2 separate regions of the Homo sapiens genome follow, and region 2 is linked to region 1. The links come from fine-mapping of genetic effects on gene expression. A gene starts in region 1. The other region holds a variant in brackets. All regions are shown on one strand. Distances are between the middles of the regions. Region 1 holds the start of DLC1 (DLC1 Rho GTPase activating protein). Region 2 overlaps DLC1 (DLC1 Rho GTPase activating protein).

The links. PIP is the estimated chance that this variant, and not a neighbour inherited with it, causes the effect.
Region 2: its variant is fine-mapped to the expression of DLC1 in fibroblasts (GTEx, PIP above 0.99).

What each region holds. Positions count from the first base shown.
Region 1 is chr8:13,512,228-13,517,615 of GRCh38, reverse strand. It overlaps DLC1 (DLC1 Rho GTPase activating protein), which reads left to right and starts at 2,765. Exons shown (of 18, transcript NM_182643.3): 1 at 2,765-3,014.
Region 2 is chr8:13,364,514-13,369,901 of GRCh38, reverse strand. All of the region lies in intron 4 of DLC1 (DLC1 Rho GTPase activating protein), which reads left to right. Among named protein-coding and RNA genes, the nearest start is that of DLC1, 150 kb to the left of the region's middle. RefSeq lists an enhancer at 2,368-3,567. The variant C/G (reference allele first, on the strand shown) is at 3,036.

The DNA of each region.
Region 1 (5,388 bases):
TGTTCCTGACACAATACTAAGTACTTAGGAAGTTTTCTCACTATTTATCTTTACACTCATATTTGGTAAAGCCTTTATAAGACTATAAGATCTGAGATTTGTTTGGAATCAAGCAACTCAACAATGAAAAATAAATATAAGTAATTAAAGATTTGGGAAGTAATCCTATTAATAGAAGAAAACATAATGTATTTTTTGTGTAGAAAAGGGTATGTTTATGAGAAACTTACTAACAAGAGTTTCTAGATATCTAAAAGGCATTTGTGAACAGAGTTTTCTTGTTTTCCCAAGCCAATAGAAATAGAAACAAAACTAAAGTATATGGCGCGGGGTACAGTATTCATGAATAAAATGTAGCTAAGAATTAGCATGATGCTGATATAATATTGAGTAACCACTGTATATCAGTACTAAAGGCAGTGACAGAGATAGAGATATCAAGTTATATTAGGAAAGACATAATATCAGTTCTCATTCCTTTCTTCTCCAGTGTTTTTCTTAGGGAAATAAACATAAATACACAAATATTTCTGCATATAAATTTCATCCTGCTTTCCAATCTATAAGTTATGTGAAATTGTCTCTATTTTTAAAGAGAAACTATTAGAGTTTAAGAAGTCTTCCCAATTTAATAAAGAAATTAAGTGGAAGTCAAGGAAGGCAGTTTATGGAGAAAAAATTAAAGCACAAAGCTTGGAGCTAGAATATCTGAGTTCCAGTGTGGACCTGGGCACTTTGTATCATTTGACTGTGAGAAAATTGCTTCTCAATACTTTATTTGTAAAATAAAACATATGAATACACGCAAAATTGTTGGAAAGATTAAATAGGCATACTGTCAGTAGAAACACTTTGAATATAAATATAAATACTTTTTAAAGAATTTATGGAAGAACAGACTTCTTTCTTGGCCTATGGTTGAAGATTAAATTAAAGAAACCTAAATGCTCATGTTTTTAGTCAATAAGACTTTGATCTAAACTTTTAAAGCTGCTTCTGACCAAACGTTTTTATTTGACTACTTCTCATCTTCAAACTCATGCACAGTATAAGTCATTCTTGCCATCTAACATGGGTCTAATATGGTTCATGATTTGCATTAACTTTGAGAGATTTTAGCTACCTAATAAGGAAAAAAATAGTAGTTAGAACCTTGTGCATCTTTGAGTTATCACCTACCCAATATTATCAAAAAGTACTACAAGATAGCCCTTGTGATATACAGGGATGGAGAATAACAGTGAACAATGAAAACTACTTACAATTTCAGAGAAGAACAGGATAGATCTTAGGGCCAACAAGTTTAAGATGTCTTTTACCTCTTTATATGTTACTCATTTTATCACATCCAACTGGAATTATTCTTGCACTTCCTATTATTGAAAGCTTCTAGAAATTTGCAAGAAGCAGATAGACCTAATAATTAATCTGATCATCAGTCCCCCCCCAAAAAAATGCTTGAGTCATAAATAGCAGCGAAATCCATTGATTGTAAATAAAGTAGAAGGGAGACATGACTGAGCCATTTCCACCAAGCAAGATAATTAAAGTCAGAGATGCTGTTTCCTGCTTCCCTGGTATAAACAATGAAGCTGCTCTACTGGCCTCTCCACAGCCTGGATGTCCCAAAACCACCTCCCTCTTCTTTCCTTCCACATTCTCTAAAGAGGATTCTGGGTCATAAAGGAAGGAAAATTGGTGTAACTTTTTTCCTGAAACGACTTCAGCTTCCTCTGTGTTTGTATTTGTGATATCTTATTATAAGACGAGCTAACATCTATTATTAATTGATGCACTAATTAAAGCCATACTTGCAGTTTCCATTAGCTTATTCCCTAAATTCTCCAGAGTTGCCTGTCTGGTTTTAATCAAAACCAAATGGTAGTCCAAATTCCCAACCTGGAGCAGCTAGGAGGAAGTCATTCAAGGGAGGCACAAGAAAGCAGAAAAGATAAACAGATGATAGTTCACAAAATTTGTGACGGACGAAGGATGCAGATACCATGAGCGGCTTTAGAGATGTGATTCAGGAACGCTGCCATGCTAGATGGAAGCAGTTGTAAGTGTTTAATGTCAGCAAGACTCTAATACGATCAAGATGGAGCCTGTCTTCTGCTCCAGCACTGGATTTTTGTAACTGGAGGATTCTGACTAGAGGTAATGCGCTGCTGCATTTGCCATAACACGAACTATTTTAATTCTGTGAAGGATTCTTGTGATCAGAGAGATCTGGAAGAAATCGTTCTATTAACTGGATGCTTGGGATTTTACTTACAGATGGTCTCAGGGACAGAATGAAAAGCTGCAGCATTTCCAATTTTAAGTCATGTTCAAAAAAGGTTTTGCCATTTAGAAGAATTATGGTATTAAGGCTAAATTCATCTTGCTCTCTTAAAAGATCTTTTGAAATGAGAGCAAGCACAGGCATTTTGATTAAGCTGTGCATATACATTTAATATAGTGGAAAGGTTGTGGATAGAGAGAAAACTACGTTTTCTTTCTTTCTTTCTTTCTTTTTTCATAAGCAGTGTGGGATAGAAAAAGCTCTAGGACTTTATGACTCTACAGCTAATCACCTCAAGAGCTTTGACAAAACTCACTTGAGTTCTGTGTAAAATCAGAACTCCTAAAACGCCCAGGCGGCTGGGCTCTCCCCTCCTCCCCTCTCTTCGTACAGCCTTTCTAGCATGCACACTCCTCAGAGGCAGGAAATACTTTCCAGGCAATCTGGGCCTGGTTGTGGAGGCCCCTTTTGCAAAACCTCAGTCTGAATTTAGTAGACAGAAGTCACTAGGAATGCCTTGACAGGATCCTGCCTTAGCTAAGGCTCCCTCCAGCTGCAGAGGGTGTTTTTGTTAGACTCACACACTGCGTGAAACTGCTCAGAATAGAGCCATGATCTCAACCACGAAATGGGAACTTAGATTTTGGAGAAACTAACGGGGACGGACTTCTTTCCTAGCCTGAGTGTTGAGCAGTGTCATGCCTTGGCGTTTCAGCTCCTCGTTGTCTAGGTAAGACGCTATGGACTATCTTTATGCTTTGAGGCGGTCTTTGAAGAGGCAGAAAGATTGAGATAAATGTTAGCATCTTGCACGGAGTTGGTGACTTCCTAGGTTTTAGAGCAAAGCCATAAAATCAGAAGTGGAAAATGTTTGATAAGTAGAAAATTCTGAGTCAATTCGTTTTAGCAAACTGTCAGTTCTAAAACAGGCTCCATATAGATTTAACTCTTTTCCTCCATAAAGTAAGATTTTATTTTTATCCCTTTTTACGTTTAACTTATTTATTAATTGAGCTGTCGGATCAGTTTTCCTATTTCTTGGCATAACGTGAAACAAATACATTTTCTCACACATCAGTGTGAGGTGTAAATGAATTCCTCCCCTACCTTCCTTTGCCAACAGGGAGAGTAGAAAGCACCCGAGTGACTTGTGCTTAATAATCAGTCTCCAAAGAGTATTTTGTGTCTCATTTAAAACTACGAAGATTGAATTTCTTATTATTTTACCCAAGCCAGTTTCAATCATATGTCAAGCTTCTCCTGTACAGCTTAAAAGGTTCATTTAAAAAAAAAAAGTAAACACGTGAAATTTCAGGAATTATTTCTGTCCTAAATAGTATTTAATCTGAGTTTTGGAAATTTAAATGTCGGAATCGAATTTAGTTTATATTAATTTTCCTGGATTCACTGCTTGCTCCGGTCACATTTTGTGTAATATTTTGAATAACTGAAGTCAATCTCAATGACACTGACACTCATTATAACTCTTTTAAGGCAGCCAGAAATCACTCCAGTCATATGGAAACTGTTTGTGTCCTTACTTATGTAATCGTAAAATTACATTTCCACCTGACTGTAGTCTCTTCAAGGTAATCTTAAATGTTTAAATGTACAATATATTAGAAAAGAAGTTTAGTAATGACCGAAAAAGTGTGGACTTATAATGCATAAGATACTGTTATATTTCTGAATATTTATAATAAAATTCATCATTTTATAGAAATAAAATGGTACATAAAGGGAAGAAATATTCATGTACATTTTCAAATCTATTAGATGAATACAAAATATACTAAGTGAAAGATGGAGAGCTATTTTGACAGTTGGATCATAAGAAATGAAGTAACTGTTTTCATTATAAGTTTTTATATAGTACAAGGTGACCATCTGCTATATTAGCTATTCTCAAATTTTATGCTAGAATAACTTATATTGATAAATTTTAACTATTCACTGACAATTTGTGTTAAAACTTCTTAAATATGAGAAAAAGAATCTACTTTTTATATATGTGGAAGATAAAATACTGACTTATCTAAATTATGATTTAATTAAAATCTCCAAATGGAATTTCAGAGAAGGAAAGAACATAAGAGATGGTCTCCTCTAACAATGGCTTGAGGTTGTCTACAAGAAGCTGAGAAATGGGATTTAAAAGTGACCTGTCCAAGGTCACACCTCTAGCTAATAGAAGAGAGGACAGCAGAACCACAGTGCCCTGATTCATAATTCAGATACCTTTTTATCCCATCATCCTGCCCTCCCATAATAATTATGCATAATGAAGTATGAACATGTCCAGTAGAAGGGTGCTTTGCAGACAGAAATTTGCAGTTCCTCTAATTTAAAAAAAAAAAAAAAAAAAGGTAAAACTGTCACCAATGTTAATTATGTGGGGAAAAAAATCCTAACTTTAAAAAAAAATCAAATCAGTATGCCTTCAATAAACACTTTACAGTAGTAACTTGCTTTATGACTATTTTATTATATTTGATGTTTATGTCAAGAAAATCAATCCATATGCTAATAATTATATTAATTTTAATCTGATGTTTCTTTAAAAATAGGGCTAGAAAACAGCTTTTCTAATTTATATCCTTGTACTCAAATGATCATAATGAAACTGTCCCAACCAATGACTTTCAGAGGCAATTTTACAGCACCACCCCCAGGCATCCTTTCTTCTATCTAGCCTAAATCATTGTTGCTGTAGCTTATTTCAAGTTCTATGTGGGTCTTTTCACTAAATATATAAAAAGCCTAAGTTGACATATAAAAAATATGTTTACATTTCTCCAGCATGTTTGCAATCCCTTAATTGATTTGTATGTCTGCTCTAAGCCTTCTACAAAGTCATTTAATTGTAGAATGCAGAATTTTTACAGTATATAAATAAATGTCTGAACAACGTGGTATAAAATGGGAGCGTGGGCTATTTCATCTGCATCATACTTCATATATGACAATATTTGTTGCTGTGTGTGCTGAAGCAGTATACCTTCTCAGACAAGACCCTTTCTCATAAATGTAACACATTCCATTTCTAATAGCTGCCATTTCCTTAGAGAGAATGTGTCACGATACTTTTTTTTTCCATTTTCATG
Region 2 (5,388 bases), 150 kb after region 1:
TGACTTTGACTTCTATTCTGAGTGAGATGAGAAGCCAGGGGAGGGCTCTGAGGAGACGATCGGAGAGCCGACTTGGGGTTCAAGTGGACCACTTTGGCTGTGTGTTGAGAACAGCTTATGGGCACAAGAAGGGGGATCCAGGAGACCAGGCAGGAGGCAAGTGTAACCCTCCAGGCCAGAGAGGATGGTGTCTGGACCAAGGAAGTAGCTAGCAGCAGTGCTGGTAAAATTGTTCTTATTCTAGATGTATTTTTAAGGGAGAAAAAAACAGGGGTTCTGATGAATTGAACATTGTCCATAAGAGAAAGAAAGAAGCCAGGGATGACTTCAGGGCTTCTGCCCGAGCTACTAGAAGAATGAGAGAACTCATCAAAGGAAACTGAATTGGAGTGCCCAAAAAATTAGGAGAGAGTACTGTTGCAGAAAACAATCATTCAGACGAGGAGATGAGAACCGAAAATTGCCCATGTGATTTAACAACAAAAGAAAAAGCAGCCTCTCATGACTTTGGTGAGAACATTTGTAATCTTTTTTTTTTTTTTTTTTCGACCCAGCCAAAAATACTGGACGTGCGAGACTATGAAAGGAGGTATCAATAGGTTAAATAGAAAGAATGAATCTATTAGAAGTTCAACCAAATTCAACAACTCCACTCTATGGCATGACAGGAGAGAGACAGAAGGTTAAGACACAGCACATGTTCTCTAGGCCTGTAGGCACTTACAGACTATTGAGGATGCAGGATGGACATATGAATGGAAATAAGGTGAACCGTGTAATCATAGCACTGCCCTGAATGTTCTTATTCTCTAAACATCATCAAAGGCTGAGGCAATCAGATCATTTGAGGTCAGGAGTTTGAGACCAGCCTGACCAACATGGTGAAACCCTGTCTCTACTAAATATAAAAATTAGCCAGGCATGGTGGTGAGCACCTGTAATCTCAGCTACTTGGGAGGCTGAGGCAGGGGAATTGCTTGAAACCAGGAGGCAGAGGTGGCAGTGAGCCAAGATCACACCGCTGCCCTCCAGCCTGGGCAACAGAGTGAGACTCCCTCTTAAAATAAATAAATAACCATCATCAGAGATGGACTGAGCAGGAAGAACATCACTAACATCCATATCACTTATCCTTACTTGGAAGAAACTTGTTTATTCTAGAAACTGGAAACCATAAACATCCTTCCCTTCCGTGAGGGCTCTTTCACCTAACAACTCAGAGTATCTGTGTTTCCACCAGGCTGCCAAGGTTAACCTATTAGGAATGATGCATGTCAACTTGGTACAAATAACTGTGGCTCAAATGGAAAATTCTCTCTGACAGAACACTGGCATTCTGTAAGAACTTTTTTTTCTATGCAGAAAAAAAAAAAAAAATTTAACTGCCTTGGCTTGCGTTTTCCCTTGGGTAATATCTCACTGTAGCAACCTCAAGTCCTTCATGATTTCCTTGGGGCAAATGAGAACTTGACCTTCTTGTTGTGCTGCTGCCTGAGGTGCAAGGCAATGCTTTAATCAACAACAGACATCTTTACTATGAAGAGGATGCCAAGTTTCCAGAAAGAAGGATGGAAAGCGGGGGAAGGGAAGAAAGGAACGTATGAATTTGAGTTTGGTAATGGAAAATATACTGTCCTAGGAGATAGAAGACATGGTGTCTGAGGGCCCTTTATCAAGTTTGAGACATTAATCTCTCAATTTAAAGTGGGGGTCAAATCTAATCTGTTTAAAAATTCCCAATTATGTCTTTCAACAGAAGAGCTCTAACTTTCTTTTCCACTTTACATATTACTGGATTAAATTCAGCTGTTTGGAACACAAGGGCCTCTTGAAGCCAGGGTCAAAGATGTAGTCACTGCTTTAAACACAGAACTTCACCATTCCAGAAACCATTCCCAGCTCCAGAGGTATAGACACTCTTCCAAACCCCACACAATTATTGGTCATAATTGGGATTTGAAGAGAGTCTATGTTTATTTCTGTGAAATTCCTGTCTAAGCCGAAAAACTTCTCAAGGCTCTTGTCCTAATCTTACTATCTCATCCTCATTTGCAAATGTAACTTGAAGAATCTCTTGAAACCTCTCCTGTCTCACTTCCTTGCCCTGGTGCTGGCAGACTGGCCAAACCTGCAGAATTCATCCTGAAATTGACCAATTTCAGATGAAACAAAACACAAAAGAGAAGAATAAACTGCAGAGTACTTCACTTCTACTACAGAGTATTTCACTAAACATCACAAAGTGCCTGATATGATGACTTCAAAGGATACAGGAAAGATTCAGTGTGCTAGACTATGTAAAGAAAACACACCCTTCACAAAAACAAATAAGCACGTCTTTGTCTTATTTTGTTTTGTTGTTGTTGTTGTAATCAAGAAACAAGGTTGTACAAAAAAACAATTCATGGGAAGATCTTTGGTAGGTGGAGGCTGCTTTTTGCTTTTCTTCTATTGGGCCCCCTAATGACGATTGAGATATGCAAGCTAACATGTAGGCAGCACCTAAGAACAGGAGGCTGTCTGTACTACAGGATCTTTAAGGACAGTGTAGAATCACTGCCAGCAGTTCTCTGTGTTAGGTTTCCTCACAGTTCATGATCTGGATGGATTGAGTGAGATGCATTTCACGTCCTGAGTTATAAACCCTGCAGGTCCCCTTCTCCTTGTAAAACTGATCAGATCTAGCCTTGCAAGACCCAAGGTATGACAGCAGCCAGAACGAGTGACCAGGACTAAAGTAGAAACCCAAAATTAGAAAAGAGTAAAGGATTTTAAGGAGAGAGACACAAATACACTGAGTGTCATCTGGCCTCTATTCTCATTTTTAGCATTATAAAATACAGAATACAGCCTCCAGGGAGACATGGAGAGGAAAGGGAAAGGAGGCAAAGTTCGTGGTTGGGAGAGTGAGTAGACAGGAATGAGGGTTGAAAAGTGTGCCCCATGCACGCAAGACAGGAAGGAAGGAAGTGATGCAACACATCGAGGAATGCAAGAGCCCAGCAATTCCACAGAGATGAGTGTGTGTGGGAGAG[C/G]CCGGCCAGAAGGGAGAATGACTGATGGGAAAGCTTCTGGAACAAAGTACAGCTGGGTGGCCTTCGACCCAGAGGGGAAAGGGAGACCTTGGTCTGGAAAGATCTTTCCTGTGTCTGAGGATGAGCATAGAGCCTTCACTGAGTCCTGAGAGGGCATCCGAAAGGAGAGAAATGGAGAGAAGACCTAGTCAGGGGAAGTTTCTGGCCCAAAATTTATATCTGCTCTAACCAAGCAGATTTCTAAATTTTTTGTTGTTTGAACTTCTTGTCTGAACTTGGGAACAAGAACACTGAAGTATAAGTCAAGACCTCTGGGTTCTTTCCCCAGCTTTTCTGTTAATTTGCTGTGGGGCTTTAACTTGTTGGGTTTATTTATCCTCAAAGGCTAGAATATCACTCATAGTGTTAACCATAGAACCTCCCCATTCACACACCTACCATGTGCCCACAAAGAACCTTCCATAGACTGCAAGTTTCATGGGGCCATGGACAGTGTCCATCTTAATCACTACGATATCATCATACTTAGGACAGCGCCAGGCATGTAGTGGATGCTCAACAGACATTTTCTCAATGAATTAAAGTAGATTACAATCCAGAAAGCAGATGAAAGCAGAGTTGTCCTGGCAGGAACAATAGGAAGCCCTACTATTTTCACTGCCCCTTCAGCCCTGGGCTCCCAATAGGAATTCCAGGACTAGGAGGAACCCAGTGTTAAACAGCTAGCTGGACGAGCCGTAGAGGCTTCTCTTCGAGTCTATAATTCTGTGGTCTTTATGCAGCACTTGTTGAGCTGAAAGCATAGAAATTAATCTTGTTTGGTCCAAATTCACCTGACTGAAGGATCACTTTTCCCACTTCACCTTCTAAAGTCCTAGTCTTTAAACCTTCTGGCTGGTACATTTTCCCCTCTCTTTGCGGAAGATGAAAGCATTTTTCCAGACAGGCCTGCTGTGAGTGACTTCAGGGAAATGAATATCTTGGGTCACTTAGGTGCCTCTCATATGGGGAACTCCTTGTATATATTTATTTTTAAGAATAGGGCTGAGAGGTTGACATTTCCATTAGCAGTTGAGTGATTTTTTTTAATTTTTTTAAATAACAACCCTATTCCTCGGTGAGACATGCCTCACATTCCGCTCTCCCCACTGCAGGCAGTTATGTGCTGCTAAATATGCAGTGGAAATGACACATGTCTGGAAACCCAGAAGGAGCACCGTCTCACCACGGCTCGCTCAGTGGTGCACAATGAAAGTGCTGTAAGTGCTTCATTAAGCAAGGTGGACTCCAACATTCTCAAAAGAGAAATTGGTAACATCTCATGCATCTGGCATTTGTCCCTCCAACGCATTCACAGGTGTCTTCTGTTTGAACTCTGGTCACATCTAGAGTAGGATAAAGGCACAGGGTCACCTGACTTTCCAGAAGATCCTGGAACTATCATAGTATCTGCAAGTGAATTGAGGCCAGTAGTTCCTCCTTCAAGGGAGGGGAGCTGTGCAGTCACTTACCACCAAAGGCGTGGATCAGCTCCACGTGCACCTTAGATAATAGTAAGCCCTGTGGACATCTGACTCACTGCATTCAATAGCCTAGCATGCTTTTGTTCTAAAGGATAGATATAATCAGTCTAACTCAAAGTATTTTTCTCCTAATTTAAGTCCACAAAGGAATCCCTACAGGGTATTCTCTCGACCTGTGCAAAGTCCAGTAACAGGATAGAGGTTGTGACATGGAAATTTAAAATGGAATTTGATTTCTAAGGACTATACTACGGGAATACAGATTGGATTAAATGTAAATGAAGTATTAGAACAGCAAGACACGTGTCCTAGTTGAAGAAAGTGTTGCAAGTCTGTGGGCAAAGATTTACCATGCAATCTCAAACATACCAAGAATTTAATCCTTGGCAAAAGATGAGGGTCCTTTTAAGGACAGAAAACAAACATTGCAATTATATTTTAATAAACTCAAATGAGTTTCTTAGTTGGCAATTTATTTTTATTGTTTTGATGGTTTGTGGGTAAATGAGTTAGAAATATGAGACGACTTTCCTTAAAATATACATGTTTTTACTAAGTTAGGGGAAAAGTTTGGTTTTGATTGGTCTTTGAAAGGCTGACAAAGATGTCTATAGCATGTGATAATTTTAAAAATCACCTATTCCTAGTCCAAAAAAGGGAATCCATGTAAGCTTATGTGCTTGCATGGTTCATGTACCAGTATGTAGGGTCAGTAAACAAAAGGGGAGATAGAAGTATCATTATGCAGGCCTGCTGTGGTGGTTCACACCTGTAATCCCAGCACTTTGGAAGGCCAAGGCGGGAGGATCACCTGAGGTTGGGAGTTCGAG